2 separate regions of the Homo sapiens genome follow, and region 1 is linked to region 2. Evidence: fine-mapped QTL for protein levels in blood plasma. A gene starts in region 2. The other region holds a variant in brackets. All regions are shown on one strand. Distances are between the middles of the regions.

Evidence for each region. PIP is the chance, under the fine-mapping model, that this variant and not a neighbour inherited with it causes the effect. Protein levels are from antibody-based Olink assays in UK Biobank. Linkage for the fine-mapping came from a reference panel and not from the study's own genotypes, which makes the PIPs less certain.
Region 1: its variant is fine-mapped to the plasma level of the CCL21 protein (UK Biobank, PIP above 0.99).

The regions. Positions count from the first base shown.
Region 1 is chr9:34,719,402-34,727,948 of GRCh38, reverse strand. SPATA31F1 (SPATA31 subfamily F member 1) reads left to right here. Exons shown (of 4, transcript NM_001141917.2): 4 at 961-4,896. The coding sequence ends at 4,717. It also overlaps a transcript of PHF24 not described here. Among named protein-coding and RNA genes, the nearest start is that of SPATA31F1, 5.8 kb to the left of the region's middle. The variant G/T (reference allele first, on the strand shown) is at 4,911.
Region 2 is chr9:34,706,363-34,714,909 of GRCh38, reverse strand. CCL21 (C-C motif chemokine ligand 21) reads left to right here and starts at 4,774. Exons shown (of 4, transcript NM_002989.4): 1 at 4,774-4,910; 2 at 5,013-5,133; 3 at 5,228-5,410; 4 at 5,483-5,905. The coding sequence starts at 4,844. The coding sequence ends at 5,516. It also overlaps a transcript of PHF24 not described here.

The DNA of each region.
Region 1 (8,547 bases), 13 kb before region 2:
GGACTAAGGAGAAAGATAATGGCTGGGAGGGAGACATACACAGTGGAAGCAGGGACACTGGGTGAGAGGGTTGCCAGGGAAGAGTGGGGTTCACATGTCTCAGGAGAGATGAGCTGCCCAGTTCAGTTCTGTGCTAGGGTAACAGCAGTTCTACAATTCAGGATTTTACTAGTGTATAATTCATAAAACATATTACATGGAGCTGCACTCAGCCATGAGATAAGTTACCCAGTTAAGAGAATGGGTTTTGAATAAAGAAGTCATCCTTGTCTTATTCTCTTTATACTCTTTCAAGGGAATAAAGCTATACCCTTTCAAGGGAAAATACCTGACTCTGGCTAGACTCTGCTGACATGACCTCCTCCGGTTCTGTCTTCAGTGAGGCCAGTACTTGGGACACTCCTTAGACAGGAGTCTATTATATTATCCTCTCCTTAAGAGCTCTAGAGAACAGGACTGGTTCCGAAGAGATGCTGGGTATAACATTACGGGTACCAAATACCCCAGAATGCAGAAGTCCCACAAGGACCTCATTTTCTACAGCTTGGAAGTACTGAATACAGGCTTTGGATTTCTTAGCCTCAAATAAGACTGGTCTGGGTTCTAACTGGTGATGTTCCTGGTGATGCCCCATCAGCTAACTGCCTAGCTCCATTCTCCTAGTTCAGCTTTTCAACAAGGTCAACAGAGAACTGACTCCAACTCCCAGCCCTCTCTGAGGGCCATGCCCTCCCATGGGTTGTCTGAGGCCTTGCCCAACAAGCTCCAGACCATCAGCCCAGCCCACCACACCTTGCCAAATGGCATTTTCTTAGCAAGGAAAGCAGACAGGTAGACAACAAGATGGTATAGGCCCCAGGGTTTTCAGGACTGGGAAAGGAGAGTGCCCACTCCAGCCCACACTCTTCCAAGAAGGCAGATGTCACTCCATCGTTAATTTTGCCGTGTTTCCCTTCCTAGCCAGGGCTGGCTTCCTCTGGAGAGAAGTGTGCGGCGAATCCTGTGTGCAGATCCCTGCTGCCAAATCTGCAATTCTGTGGCTCTGGAGATTCAGCAATTGCTGGTGGGTGAGAACAACCAGATCTCCCTGACTTTATCGGGGCCATTGCAGGGCTCCTCTTGCCTAGAGATGCTGTCTACGTCTAGTATGTCTTTAGATCAGAGTCTGGAGTTTCATTCCTGGCACACCAGAGAGCTTTCACTGTCATCTGTAACCCCAACACTGTCACAATTAACAGATCAGAAATCTTTAACCCAGTCAGCTGCCCAGTCAACGTATGCAGATGGCATACAAGATTACTGGGCTGATCACCTCCAGCTAGGGCAGGAATTTCAAGTGCCAGATGTGCTCCGGGGCCCAAACACCATAGCTTCTTCAAGGATTGAGAAGCCAAGGGCTCCACTGAACCAGGAGGAGATGACGCAGAGCAACCCCAGCCTTGTCCAGGGAAACCAAGGCCAGCATCACTTGAATTCCCAGGTCTCCTTGCTGTCCCTGAACCCAGAAACCCTGAACCGGATGCATCCAATGGCCTTGCATATGGTCCTCCCTGCCCACCTGCCATTTCTCAGTCCTGAAGTGCTGAGGCTTCTTGAGGTACATGTTAAAAAATGGATGCATTTCCAGAGGTGGGGGCTCCCAAGACGTGTGGAGGAGTCCCTGAGGCAGCTTATGCCAAACCCACCATTGTATTACCAACCTGGAAATGACCAGCCAGTTTCTTTCAACCTGAAGAATACTCCTCAGGTCTCTCTTCATAGATTTGAGACCATTTCCCTCCAGACCTGGTGTTCATGTGTGGCTGGCCAGCCCATCCAGACCTTCTGGGTTTCTGAATGGTCCACAATGAACCCAGAACAAAGACACCACTGTCAGCAAACTCCAAACCCTATGGCTCTAGCCTTGCCCTCTCCAGCCCTTAAAGCCCTAAGTGGCCCCCATCCACAGTCTGGGGGACAAGATAATGACTCAGGGAGTGATCTCCAGCAGAAATACAGCCAGCTATTCTGTGGGCTCCCTTCTCTGCACAGTGAGTCCCTGGTTGCCACTTTCATGGGATCTCAAGGCCTCCCCAAGATTGAAAATGTGCCCAAGCCCCCCTTGAAGGATCCTTTTCTCTTCAATGAGCTCTCCTTCCCCCAACTGCTCCCTAAAACTTCACCCCAGTCAGCCCCACCCTCTTCCCCACTTTCCCCAAACTGGATGTCTCCATCTGACCATCAACGAGCTCAGATCAATGTCCCATTTCTGACTCTGGCTGAGTATGAAGCCTTGGAGTGGCACCTGCTACAGAGGCAACTCCAGCTTCAGTGGGGCTGGCCAGCTGCCCTCCAGAGGTCTCAGCACACCCAGTGCCTCATGCAGCATGAGCCCTGTGGCAAAGCTCAGTCTCCTGAGACCACGACAGCTTCCCAGACAGGGAAGTCCATCTCAGTGCTCACCAGGGAACTACTCTTCTTCCCGGAGCATGCCCGGAAGCTGCTGGAATTCCACATCCAGAAACAGTTGATTCGCCATCGCTGGGGCCTGCCTCAGAAGATCCAGCAGTCCATCCAGTTGCTCCTTACCTCCACTGATCAGCAGACTGTGTCCAGCAGCAGCACAGCCCTAGCCAACGTGAGCATCCCCCAGCCTGTAGCCCTAGAGGCCAACGGGGCTTGCGATGTGCTGTCACCCATTGCGGCCCCAGTGTCCATCCCCAGGCCACACTTGTTAACTCAGGTCAAGGCAATACTGCAGAGCCACATCGACTCCAAATGTGGACAAATCCACCAGGGCAAGATCCCCGCCTGTGTACACAGGTCCTGGGACTGCAGAATTTCTGGGGTCCTGGCAGTGGCTCCTTTTCCCTGCATTCCAGAAAGCCAGTTCCTGGAACTGCAGACAGCAAGTGACCCGGACCTGCATCACAAAGTTATGCCCTGGATGCCAACGGCCCTTGATCAGCAGCAACAGGCTTTACCAGGTACTGTCACTGAACACCCTAAGCTGCTCCGAGTCTTGTCTGTGGAAGCCATTGAGAAACTGGAGACAACTTTACGGCACAAGCATCTGGCCTTCCTGTCGGGGCTGCCTGCTCTGTATTATGTGGCGCTCCCCAGGGCCCTGGCCCCGGCAGTCACTAGCCAATCTGTCATCACAGAGATGGAGCCTAGTCCCGTGGAAATCCCAGCAGAGCCTCTGATTCAGATGGTTTCATTTGAAGAACAGTGTATAAGTCTTGGGCCATGCCCTCAAGGCAACAATGAGAGTTGTACAGACGTTGCAAAAGAGTTCCAGCCTGCAGTGCCAGTAAAAGGAACAATGGAGACGCTGCCTCTAGAAAGCCAGACGCATCCTACTAGCCCCCACTCACTCCAGACACATATCTTGACCAAACTAAACTTCCACCTGAGAAAAAAGGTCCTAGAGATACAATGGGGAATTCCCATTAGGGCAAGGAAGTCCAGGGAACAAACTGTTGCAGCACCAGAGAACATATCCACACAGAAGTCTCTTGAAAGTCTAAACCACCAAGGGGAGACATTGCTCCAGGAACTGCCCATCCCACCAGACACTCTTCCTGCCCCTAATCCAGAAGGGGTTCACCTTAAAGAACAGCTGGCCAATGACTTGAAGGCAGTGCAGCAGAACCAAAAGCAATCCAATTCCAAAGCTGTACCCCAGGGTTCTGCCCACTCGGTCTCCAAGATCTCACAGCCCAGTGGGGACATGACAGAGGCCCACATGCCTTGTGTTCAGGTAGAGGCCAATGTGAACAAACCCAGCCTGGAGGAACCCTGTGGCCCTGAGCCTCAAAGCCCTAGCAAGAGCAAGGACCCAGCCCATGTCCCCATGCTAGCAGGAAACAGAGAGGACCCAGAGGAAACCAAAGCAGCCAGGGACCACAGAGAAGGGGATGCGGGGTTTGGGCGCTCCTCAACCAGAGAAGAGAGACGCCCTGCTGAAGACCAGAGGCCAGCAGGGATGCTTCCAAACAAGACACCCCGAGGGTCCTGGCGATGGAGCCGTAGCTTTCATCTTGCTGATCCCTGTCAACACAGCCCCCAGCATCACCCTCAGCTTAAGCTCCCACAGCTACCTCCACGAGTCCCTGGGGAGAAAGAGTCTGAGAAGGACCTGCAAGACAGTCAAACCAAGCTAACTGTCATCCTTGAACCAGCGACAATTCCTGAGAATGCCCAGACTGTGTTGCCCCAGGCTTCACAGGGTCAGCCTTTCCTGAGCCAACCAACTCAGGCTAAGCCTTTGCAGGGCCAAACTTTGCAAGGCCAAGTTTTGCATGGGCTGGTGATGCCAGTCCATGCTCAAAAGAAGCCCAGCCTTACAGAGTCTAGCTTCAGAAATAAAATTAAATGTTTTCTGCAGCATATTAACCCCAAGACAAAAGGCAAAGGGCATGAGGACTCCATGTTCTCAGCCGCTGCGAAGGTGGCCAAAACCAGAAAAGAAAATGTTGCAAAGAGCCTGGCTCCAGCCAAGAGCCCTGTGGGGAGAAGTAAGACGGAGAAGCCGACAGGGTGCTCCAAGGCCCAATCTCGTCCTGCTCAGAAGCTGGTGGGCCCAGCCTTCTTGGATGGTCCCCAATCCCTAGACGATAAGCTCCGGCTACACTCCAGACAACCTGGCTCTGCCTCAGCCCTGGGCTACCCCCGCCACTGCCCTCGTCACTGTCCTCGAGAGGCTTGTGCCAACAAACCAGGGCACCCAACCTAGCTCCTGACCCTCACCTCAGATAGAAACATTGGTCCGCTCAAGGAGAACATGCAGAGCCATGAAAAAGAGTTTATAGGCTCCCCAACTGCTGCAGCCCTCCAGAGGACCAGTATTGTCATTTCCATAAATGTGCAGGTGGGACAGATGCCACTAGAAATACACTCTATATTTCTCAGCAATACATTGTCTGTCT[G/T]CTCCTTGTCTCTGCTGTATTGTGTTAAGGGAAGGTGTGAGGGAGGCTAAAAAGTCCTTCCTGTCTAGGGAAGGAGCTTTAACTTACCTTTCAGATGGGTCACCATTCCACATCAAAGAAGAAAAGCTTTTATCTAGAGTGCACTGAAGTTAAAGGTCATGCTTGATTTCTGAACATTTACCATCCATCCCACCAGAATATTTTCCACTGTCCCATAACTCCAGGGCCTAGGAGAGTGGCTAATGCATAGTAAGACCTTACATTAGTTGAATCCAAAGTCAGGGCTGTGGAGACAGACAAAGCATTGATCATTTTAATGGGGCTATGAGGTGTGTGGTAGTGCCACAGGAGGAAGCAATCAGCTGGTGAGGAGGAACCCATAATAAAAATTACTTTGAGAAGCATCTTGTTTTCAACAATTAAATATCTGAGTGTTTATTACGTGCCAAGAACTATGCAAAACACATCAATGAACATGACACAGGCCTTGACCCAGTGGAGCTCATGATCCCATGGGGTCGACAGTCTATTACTCCCAAATTGTCCAGTCAAATTATAAACTTAGAAGTCCAATATTCATCTCAAACCATACAAAAATAAACGAACTGGTTTTCTACCCTTCACCACCACTCAGTCACACATACCAAACCCACTGTATTCATGATATTTCTCACTTCAGTGAATGGCAGCTCCATCTTTCCAGTTATTTAGGACAAAAACAATGGTGTTATCCTTGATTTTTTTCCTAACCCACAGTAAATCCTGTTCTCTCTACCTTCAAGCATGCATCGAGAAAATGCCCACTTCTCACCCTCTCTACTGCTACCATCACTCCAGTAGCATCATAACTAATCTCCCCATTTCATCCTGAGACTATTCAACCAACAGTTTATCCTCAACACAGAAGCCTGATGGTCCTCAGGGAGGGTCCTGGCTTCAGATAATACAGAGAGAGTGAGAAAGAAAAAACCATGCAACTGGATAACACACCAAACAACTAAGTGTAAATGGAGACATCTAAGGAGTAGGCCCTGAGACTCTTCTATGTTAAGAAACTGGAAAGTAAAGGAGGGACTAGTAAACAGAGGAAACTGACAAGCAGTGGCCAGTGAGATGGAAGGAAAACAAGATGAGTGTGGAATACTAGAAGCCAAACAAAAATGTTTTTCAAGGAGAGATCAACTGCATGAAAAGTTGCCAGTCAGCCAATTAAGATGAGGCGTGTTAGATTTAGCCACACAGAGATCATTGATGACCTTAACAGGAGCAGCCTCAGGTGAATGATGGAGATGAAGGTGTGACTGGAGTGGATTCCAGAGAGAGTGGACGGCTGGGCACAGTGGCTCACACCTGTAATCCTGGCACTTTGGGAGGCCGAGGCAGGTGGATCACCTGAGGTCAAGAGTTCGAGACCAGCCTGGCCAACATGGTGAAACTCTGTCTCTAGTAAAAATACAAAAATTATCTGGGCGTGGTGGTGCGCACCTGTAATCCCAGCTACTCAGGAGGCTGAGGAGAATCACTTGAACCCAGGAGGTGGAGGTTGCAGTGAGCCCAGACTGTGCCATTGCATTCCAGCCTGGGCGACAAGAGCAAAACTCCATCGAGAGAGAGAGAGAGAGAGAGAGAGAGAGAGAGAATGGAAAGACAGCAATTAGTGTTAGAAAGGGTAACATAAACTCCTCAAAGAGGTCTGTTCAAATAAAGATACAGAAATGTGAGGCATTAGAACCCAAAATGGCTTTTCAAAAAAGACTGGAGACATAGCATGGTGGATGTTAATGGAAAACATCCAGTGGAGATGGATAAATTAATGATGCAGGAGCTCAAGGGGAGAACTGCTGGAACAATGTTGTGGTTCAGAAGTGAAGGAATGGGAGCAAGTCCCCAAGTTGACAGTCTGGCTTTGGCTAAAAATACAGAACTTCACTGGTGGTAGAGAGAAGGTAGAGTTAATGAGGGAGGACTTCATGGATTAGAAGAAAGGATTCTTCCACATATAAGGGAGTGTGGGCAAAGACCCAGAGGGATGAGTGAGGACCTGGGAAGGGACCGTGTCTGTGGGAAGGGGGAACCGTATGGAGAACCAAAGCGGGAAAGCTGGAGGTGGAGAAAGATTCTGGAAGTTACCATGGAAAGTTTCTGTTAGGTCCCAAGCAGTTGGTTGTGAGTACATAGGTGGGTGAAAAGGTGATCAAAGCTGCTGCTGATATCTGTGCAGCAGGTGCTCTTGGAACACTGTACCAGCAGGAGAGCTCACAGAGAAAGCTCTAAATGCATGGAGACTGCGCAAGAGCATGAGGCTGGAGATGGAGAAACAGGGCAGAGATGGCATCCTAGTGCTCAGTGAGGTGAGGGACCAGGGAGGTTATATGGGTGGGATGAGAGGATTGGGAAGCAGGAAGACAAAGAAGCTGCCCTGAGAAGATGGAAGGGACATCGATTTTGGACAGCTATTATCCCTCAGGAGGTGGCACCTCTGCATTCCCCTTCTGACCTACCACAGAGGAGCCAAGAGCTGGAAAAAGGGCAGGAAGTGCTGTGACTTCTTTATGACATGTTTTTTGTTTTGTTTTGTTTTTTTTTTGAGACGGAGTCTCGCTCTGTCGCCCAGGCCGGACTGCGGGCTGCAGTGGCGCAATCTCGGCTCACTGCAAGCTCCGCTTCCCGGGTTCACGCCATTCTCCTGCCTCAGCCTCCCGAGTAGCTGGGACTACAGGCGCCCGCCACCGCACCCAGCTAATTTTTTGTATTTTTTAGTAGAGACGGGGTTTCACCTTGTTAGCCAGGATGGTCTCGATCTCCTGACCTCATGATCCACCCGCCTCGGCCTCCCAAAGCGCTGGGATTACAGGCGTGAGCCACCGCGCCTGGCCCTTTATGACATGTTTTGAGGGACAGTGGGATGCCCCTGGTTCCTACGGAAACCCAGGATCACTCACCATCTCATCACTAGGAGGAGGAGGTGGCAGGACTTGCTTCCTCTGATGGGACCCCAGCATTTAGCACAATGTGTCCACTGCTTGGATACAGAAGAGGCAGGATGGGAAGAAACATGGATATGTCCCTGCTCTGAATGCTGATTCTGTGCCTAAGGGATGGGGGCCCAGCCCATACATGGTCCCCAGGGCAGAGAGGCACAAGGCCCAAACCTGCTGAACCAACATTCAACAGATGTTTTCCTAAAGCATTCCCAAAGATCAAAGGAGGTATTGTGACAGGCACATCCTCCCTGCCTGGTGGGAGTGGGGCAGGCAGCCACACAGCTAGAACAGAGGGAGGCCCAGAATGAAGGGAATTGACTCAGGAGGGTCACAGCAGCATCAGGTAGGAAGCCAGGGGTTAGCGTGCATACATCCTGGTTTAGGGTGGAGCAGGTCCCTCCCATGGTTCCCTACAGGCTCCCACCTGCCTGAGGCCAGCATGGGCTCATGCTGCTAACTAAAGTCCCATGACAGAACTGGGGGCAAAGATGAGCTGGAACTGATACCTTCAGGATTCTGAGTTCTCAGCAAAGTTGAGAGCTAAGCAAAGTCAGGGTCAGAGCCTATGATTCATGCAGGATGCTGATGGCAGATGAAGCTTTGCTCATCCCATCCCATAACCCCAGCACAACCCCACCTTCTATCTTCCCCAG
Region 2 (8,547 bases):
CCATCTGACACAACAAGAAGCTTCTTTCATGGCATGAATAAGGGTAAGGGAGACAGGCAGGTATCTTGGAGAGAAAGCAAGCCTAAGCTTTTAGGAAAGAAAAAGGTACAGCCCCCTCCTCTTCCCTGCCATCTCTCCTTTTTTTCTACAATCTGTGCCAGGCGAGAAAGTCTCCTCCTCCAGGGGAGGTAGAGGGGGCATCACTCCAGCTTTCCTTTCCCCAGACCAACTTTGTTCCCTTTCACCGGCTCTGTGTCAATCTAGAGTGTGGGATGGGGAGCAGAATAGGCCCAAGTGGCTCTCCCAGCCCCACCCCACCAAATGCTTAGAATTACCTGCAGAACTTGGTAAAAATACACATTTGTTGGCTCTATTCTGAGATTCTATTTAAGGCGGTCTGGCGTGTTGCTTCTAATTCTGTTTTTAAAAAGTCACCCAGGTGATTCTGAAGTGCAGCCAAGTTTGGAAGCAAACTAATATAATATGACTTCGGAATTATCTGCATGCCCCCTCCCAAGCCCATGCTATTCTATCTGTCTGAGAATTCCTCAGAGACAGGCTGCTCACTACTTTCTTAGTCACTCCCATTAGGCAGGTGGGGAAACCAGGGAGCTGGGAATTTAAAACTTTCTGGTTCCAGGATCTGCCTCTAGACCAGGTAAAAGATCCAAGAAATCTTATCTCCTTGTTTTTGCCTAGTCTTGTTCCAGGAACACCAGCTTCTTGCCAACAGAGTCACTCCCTGCCCTGCTTAAGGTCTCAGCCTTAAGGTCTCTTGAGTCTGAAAACCTCAGACTCAAGAGCTCAATTATTTCTCCTCTAGGCCACCAAATTCCAGCCCCTCTACTCTGTGGACCTTAGAATGAAACACCACCTCTTTATCCCCCTCCCAACAGTACCTCCATCTTCAACCCCATGCCTTCTGCATCCCATCCTTCCCCAAGAGCAACCCAATATTTCTGTCTCTGGCCATGGCTGTCCTGACTACATCTCTCCTGACACTCATTTCCTCCTCTTCCTATGGTTTCCCTATCCTGTCATAAGCCATCCTTCAAAAAACAAGATGTAAGGAGCTTGCTGCTGAGTTTAGCACTCTGGAAACCAGATGGATTCTCCAGCTCTGACGTGAGGATTACAACTCTAAGGTCCCAATCCAGTATTAAATATAGATTCTAAGTTATGACCCAATAACCCTCACACATCATATACCATAATAAACTCCAAATGGATAAAAGATTTTAAAATGTTAAAAATTAAACTACAGAAAAACATCATACAAAATGGCAGAGTAAGAAGTTATAGGGGTTGGTCCCTCCACCAAAGCAACTATTGAGGTGGAAAGAGCAATTGGAATCGACTCTTTCAGAAGTCTGGAGCCCGATTGGACACTTATAACAAGCAGGGGGGGTGGTACTTGATGAAGGGAGAGGTTGCTGGTCTTTCAGAAGAGAGCATAATGCATGCACTAGCTACCAACCAACACAGTGGGGATAGCAGCCCACATTCCTGAAGTAGCTGGGTGGTCACTGAGTGGGCAGGGGGAACCCTGTCCTCCAAAAATGAGGGGTTTTGCATTTGGGTTTGTCTTCTGGTTCCCTAAGGGACAGGCTTGCTTTGTTTCAGCCCTCTTGGGCTTCAGGATCTTCCTGAGCCACATATATCAGAAGATTTAAAGGGACAGAATCTTTTTGCGGGGAAGGAAGAGAACCCTTTGTCAGGTCATAAACAGAAATTTCAGTAACCCCACAAAACAAAGAATACACACTTTGCAAAAAACCGTTTGAAAAAGTCACCACAAATTGATGGCAGAGTTCTCAACAAGTGTATATCAGCAATCCCTAAGGAGTGAAAAAATTGAATTTCTAGAGATACCACACTGTAATATTCAGAATGCCCAGTTATCAACAAAAAATTACTAATACAAAGAAATAGGAAAGTATGGCCCATTCACAGGAAGAAAGGAATTTGACAGAGACTATCCCTGAGGAAGCCCAGATATTGGACATAGTAGATGAAGACTTTAACTGTCTTACTGTAAATGCTCAATAAATATTGATGATGGGAGGTTTGATGATAAGGGTGAGAAGCTGAAATCTCAAATACTGCTTTGTTGCTTGTTTTATTATGACCTCAAATTAAATTGGGAAACAATGGCCCTTTTGGAAAAAAAAAATAACTGTCTTAAATATGCTCAAAGAGCTGAAGGAAACCATGGGCAAAGAGTTAAGGGAAATCTGAAAAATGGTGTATGAACAAAATGAAACTATCAATAAAGAGATGGAAATTAGTAAAAAGAAAAAAAGGACTCAAGCAGAAATTCTGGAAGCAAAAATACAATAACTGAAATGTACAATTCACTAGGGGCAATCAACAACTAATTTAAGCAGAAAAAAAAGGATCAGTATTCTTGATGATAAGACAATTAAAATTATCAAGTATGAGAAGAAAAATAAACGAGCCTCAGGGATACCATCAAATGTACCTCATCACAGGAGTCTCAGGAGGAGAAGAGAGGGAACAGGGCATTAAAAAAATTGAAGAAATAATGACAAAACATCTGAAATCTGATGAAAAGCATGAATATACATACCCAAGAAGTTCACAAACTCTAAGAAGGATAAACTCAGAGATCCACACCAAGACAAATTATAGTCAAATTGTTGAAACCCAAAGATTTTAAAAGCAGCAAGAGAGAAGTAACTCATTATGTACAAGAGATTCTCAATAAGATTACCAGCTGATTTCAGAAACCATGGGAGGCCAAAAGACAATGGGGGATATATTTAAAGACTGAAGAAAAAAAAAAGTCAAACAAGAATTCTATATATCCAGCAAAACTATGCTGCAAGAATTAAGGAGAAATAAGACATTTCCAGATAAACAAAACTTAGGAAGTTCATTAATAGTAGACCTGCCCACAAGAAAAGCTAACGGGAGAAAGAAAAAACAAACAAACAAACAAACAAATGCTAAAGGAAGACCTTCAGAATGAAACAAAAGGACAAAAAATAATAACTCACAGCCACACAAAGAAACAAAGATCTCTGATAAACATAACAACATAGCAGGCTGGGCGCAGTGGCTCATGTCTGTAATCCCAGCACTTTGGGAGGCCAAGGTGAGCGGATCATTTGAGGTCAGGAGTTTGAGACCAACCAGGCCAACATGGTGAAACCCCATCTCTACAAAAAATAGAAAAATTAGCTGGATGTGGTGACAGGTGCCCATAATCCCAGTTACTCGGGAGGCTGAGGCAGGAGAATGGCTTGAACCCGGAGGGTGGAGGTTGCAGTGAGCCAAGATCACGCCACTGCACTCCAGCCTGGGCGAAAGAGTGAGACTCTGTCTCAAAAAAAAAAAAAAAAAAGTAACAACATTGCCAGGTATGCTGGTTCACACTTGTAATCCCATTACTTTGGGAGGCCAAGGCGGGTGAATTGCTTGAGGTCAGGCGTTCGAGACTAGCCTGGGCAACATAGTGAGACCTCGTGTCTACAAAAAATACAAAAATTAGCCAGGCATGGTGGCCCCACTACTCAGGAGACTGAGGTGGAAGGATCACTTGAGCCCAGGAGGTCGAGGCTGCTGTGAGCTGAGATTGTGCCACCGCACTCCAGCCTGGGTGACAAAGCGAGACCCTGTGTCAAAAAAAAAAAAAAAGATAAAAGCTAGTATTGTATTTTTAGTTTGTAGCCCCACTTTTTTCTATATAATTTAAAAGGAAAATGCATTAAACAATAATTATAAATCTATGTCAATGGGAACACAATGTATAAAGATGTAATCTGTGACAATAACAATATAAAGAAGGGACTAAAATGTATACGAGCAAAATGTTTATATACCATTGAAACTAAGTTGGTATTATTCAAACTAGGTTGTTATCAGTTTAGAATGTTAATTATAATCACCAAGGTATCCATTAGGAAAATAACTACAAAATATATAGAAAAGGAAAGCAAAGGGGAATCAAAATGGTTATGCTACAGACCAGGTGCAGTCGCTCATACCTATAATTCCAGCACTTTGGGTGGCCAAGGCAGGAGGATCGCTTGAGCCCAGGAGTTCAAGACCAGACTGGGCAACATAGCAAGACCTCATCTCTAGAAAAAATAAAAATGAAAAATGAAAACAGTAGCCGGACGTAGTGGCATGTGCCTGTGGTCCCAGCTCCTCAAGAGGCTGAGGCAGGCAGATCATTTGAGCCCAGGAGCTCAAGACTAGCCTGGGCTAGACATCGTGAAACCTCGTCTCTACAAAAAAAAAATAGAAAAATCAGCCAGGCGCAGTGGTGCTTGCCTGTAGTCCCAGCTCCTGGGGAGGTTGAGGTAGGAGGATCACTCGAGCCCAGGAGGCGGAGATTTCAGTGAGCCAAGATCAACCACTGCACTCCAGCCTGGGTGACAGAGTTAGACCCTGTCTCAAAAAAAAAAAAAAAAAAAAGAACTCTTACAATTTAATAATCAGATTTGCTGGAAGGAGGGGAAGGGTATGGATCCTGGAGCGTAGTGAGGAGACAGTCATGGTGTTCCAGGGGAGAGGCAGTGAGGCCTGCATGAAAGCAGTAGCTGGGAATAGAAGGAAGGCTCAGGCCCAGACATATTCAACTAATGAGGACATAAAATTTGGCAGCTGAGGACTGTCCACTTAGTTTGAGATAAGTGGGGCTGGGTGCCAGCAAATCCAGCTTTCAGGAAGGAAAAGGAGTGGGGATAAGTTAAGGGAAGTGAAAGTGTCTAGCTACATAAATAGCAGGCCAATCCCAGCCCACGCACAGACCCCCAACTTGCAGCTGCCCACCTCACCCTCAGCTCTGGCCTCTTACTCACCCTCTACCACAGACATGGCTCAGTCACTGGCTCTGAGCCTCCTTATCCTGGTTCTGGCCTTTGGCATCCCCAGGACCCAAGGTACCAAGGCAGGGAGGGGCCTTGCATGGGGCTAAGGGGATCAAGAGGCCTGGATAGGAGCTTGCCAGCAGCCCCTGGCTCCCTGTGAATCCCACCCTGCAGGCAGTGATGGAGGGGCTCAGGACTGTTGCCTCAAGTACAGCCAAAGGAAGATTCCCGCCAAGGTTGTCCGCAGCTACCGGAAGCAGGAACCAAGCTTAGGCTGCTCCATCCCAGCTATCCTGTGAGTGGACACAAAGGGGTGGGTACTGGCTGGTGACGGGGTGGGGAGGGCATGGTGGGCAAGACTAAGAAGGCTTACTAGCCCCCACCCGCAGGTTCTTGCCCCGCAAGCGCTCTCAGGCAGAGCTATGTGCAGACCCAAAGGAGCTCTGGGTGCAGCAGCTGATGCAGCATCTGGACAAGACACCATCCCCACAGAAACCAGCCCAGGGCTGCAGGAAGGACAGGGGGGCCTCCAAGACTGGCAAGAAAGGAAAGGGCTCCAAAGGCTGCAAGAGGTGAGGAATCTGAGGGATGTGGGTAAAGGGGAGCCTCAGTCAGCCCCTCACACCCCTCTTCTGCCCTCACAGGACTGAGCGGTCACAGACCCCTAAAGGGCCATAGCCCAGTGAGCAGCCTGGAGCCCTGGAGACCCCACCAGCCTCACCAGCGCTTGAAGCCTGAACCCAAGATGCAAGAAGGAGGCTATGCTCAGGGGCCCTGGAGCAGCCACCCCATGCTGGCCTTGCCACACTCTTTCTCCTGCTTTAACCACCCCATCTGCATTCCCAGCTCTACCCTGCATGGCTGAGCTGCCCACAGCAGGCCAGGTCCAGAGAGACCGAGGAGGGAGAGTCTCCCAGGGAGCATGAGAGGAGGCAGCAGGACTGTCCCCTTGAAGGAGAATCATCAGGACCCTGGACCTGATACGGCTCCCCAGTACACCCCACCTCTTCCTTGTAAATATGATTTATACCTAACTGAATAAAAAGCTGTTCTGTCTTCCCACCCAAGTACCTGTTCCCATGTGTTTATGTCCACCGAGATGCCAAGGTTCCTACAGGGTGGGGTCACACACTCTGAGCCGAAAGCTCAGGCTGAAAAATGCTATGTTCTCATCTACCCCAAGAGTTTCCTTGCCTCTCAGGTGCCTGCACCCCTGAGCAGTTAAAGGGAGGCTGAAGGACAGGGTAGGACCCAGTCTTCTGAGGCATCCTGCCAATGGAGAGGTGGTGGACATGGAGCACACACCCCCAACAGCTCTGCAGACCTCTGAGACCCTGATTCTGTCCTGCACTAACTCCAGGGGTGACCTTCGGATCTTTTCCATGACCTTCAGACCTTTCCCCAGATATCCCAGAGGCTTCCTCTCTTTTCCCTGGGAACTATTCAATGAGACCCTCCAAGTGGTTCTTTGGAAGGGTCCCTAGGAGGGAAGCTGTGGCTTGGGCCCATCTATAACACAGACAAACACAAGTTATATTGAAACCTGCCCTAGCACAGTTCCAGCCCTGAGAGAGCCCCTGGGAGGCAAAGACCCGAGGGGACTTGCTTCAGCCCTATTCAGTGAAGCTCGGGCCTTGACCTCTCCTCTTTGTTTAATGGGGCTGTTGTGCTCTCCTTCTATTCCTATCTGGGCCCCTGGACTCACTCAGCCTCCTTCCAGATGGAAAAACCTCCTCCCTTTTTTTTTCCTCCTTTCTTTCCTGGCTGGGATCCAGACTACTTTAGCCCATTTAACCCTTTGAAGTCAAGGAATAAGTCTCCTGGGGCAGGTTTTCAGAACCCCAGGATTCAGGTGTGAATCAGTCTCCTCTCCTGGAAGGCCTCAGATGGCTCTCCTCTACCTCTTCCTCCCCAGAGTGAAGACCCTTCTATTCCCCAAATCACCTCCAGGCGGGGAGAGTAGAAGCCATCAGATTGGGCCAGACAATGTGAGAAAGAAGGGAACAGATCCTGGGGAAGGGCAAGAAAGGTAGGAACCTCAAGGCCGGGCGCGGTGGCTCAGGCCTGTAATCCCAGCACTTTGGGAGGCCAAGGCAGGCGGATCATGAGGTCAGGAGTTCCTGACCAGCCTGGCCAACATGGTGAAACCCCGTCTCTACTAAAAATACAAAAATTAGCCGGGCATTGTGGCGGGCGCCTGTAATCCCAGCTACTCGGGAGGCTGAGGAAGGAGAATCACTTGAACCCAGGAGGCGGAGGTTGCAGTGAGGTGAGATCGATTGTGCCATTGCACTCCAGTCTGGGCGACAAGAGCAAGACTCCATTTCAGGAAAAGAAAAAAAAAGGAGGAGAAGAAGAAGAAGAAAGGTAGGAACCTCAGAAGCTAGAAGTGGCTGCTCCATCAACTTTTCCTTCTGTAGGAGCCTGAGTATGCCACAGCACTTACCACCTATCCTAACATCCTCAAGTATTGGCTTGTCTGCTCCTCTTGCAGCAGGTGAAGACAGGGCCTCTCCCCTGCCTGTCCTAGGGCAGCAGGTGTGAAATTAATCTATAAACTCAGATATGCAAGAAATACTACTTTTGAAATGTTCCTTAAATGAACTTAATTCCTACTCCAAGCTACTGCACTAGAGTGCTGATGAGAAATTCAACATCAGGCACTCTTGTGGGATCCCACCTGCCAAGGGTTATGCAAAGGTCACAGAAACCTCAAGGCCCAAGGGAGGCCTCCTACCTGCCTCCTACACCATCCTATCATTGGACATCAGTCTCGCCAGTGAGTGTTCTGACCCCTGTGGTTCCAGCAGGTATATCTCTTCAAGTCCTAGACTCCACATTTGAGACATAAGAATTCAGATATGACAGCCTCTGGGCTTGGACTTGACCTCCCCAGATACCCCCGAAGCCATCTACTCAACAGTCCTGTCACTTGCCCCATCACAGACAGAAATTAGAGCCCAGTGCCCACTCTGGCTGGATGTACACACTAATCCCTTCGCAGTCCTAAACAATTGTCTCCCTCTCCTCAGCCCCTCCAGGGCATAACCTCTTCCCCAAGTTTACAAGTTTACTTTTTTTTTTTTTTAAGGCTTGCTTTGTAGTCCAGGCTGGAGTGCAAAGGTAGGATCATAGCTCACTGTAACCTCAAACTCCTGGGCTCAAGGGATCCTCCTGCCTCAGGCTCCAAGTTGCTGGGATTACAGGTGTGAGCCTCTATGCCCGGCATTTTCCCCTGGTGTAAGACATTTACAAAAGGCCTTTGACGTCAGGCTCCCTTTGACATCAGGACATCACTCCCAGCCCTGCCAAAACTCTTGCCTACTCTATAGTGAAAAGAAAAACATAGGCAGAAAAAACAAAACTCTCTATTTCACTAAATTCTCCTGCCACACCTGCATGCCTGGTATTTGCCTCAAGCCCTGCTCTGAGTAAGCATGCAATATATTATTTATTCCATCAGATCATGACTGGCCACTCTCCTTGTCTGCCTTCATCTTTGACAACATTGTCCTGTTCTTTCTCTTTTCTCTCTTATTCTCTTGATGCATAATTCAAAAAATATCACATAATACACACTCACAGTTAAAAAATATATCCAAAAGTACCAAAAGGTTTATTCTGAATAACATAATTTCCTACAACTTTAACTCCTATGCTATTTCTTAGTGCCATATGTCTAAGTACTTTGCCTATACCTCTGTTTCTT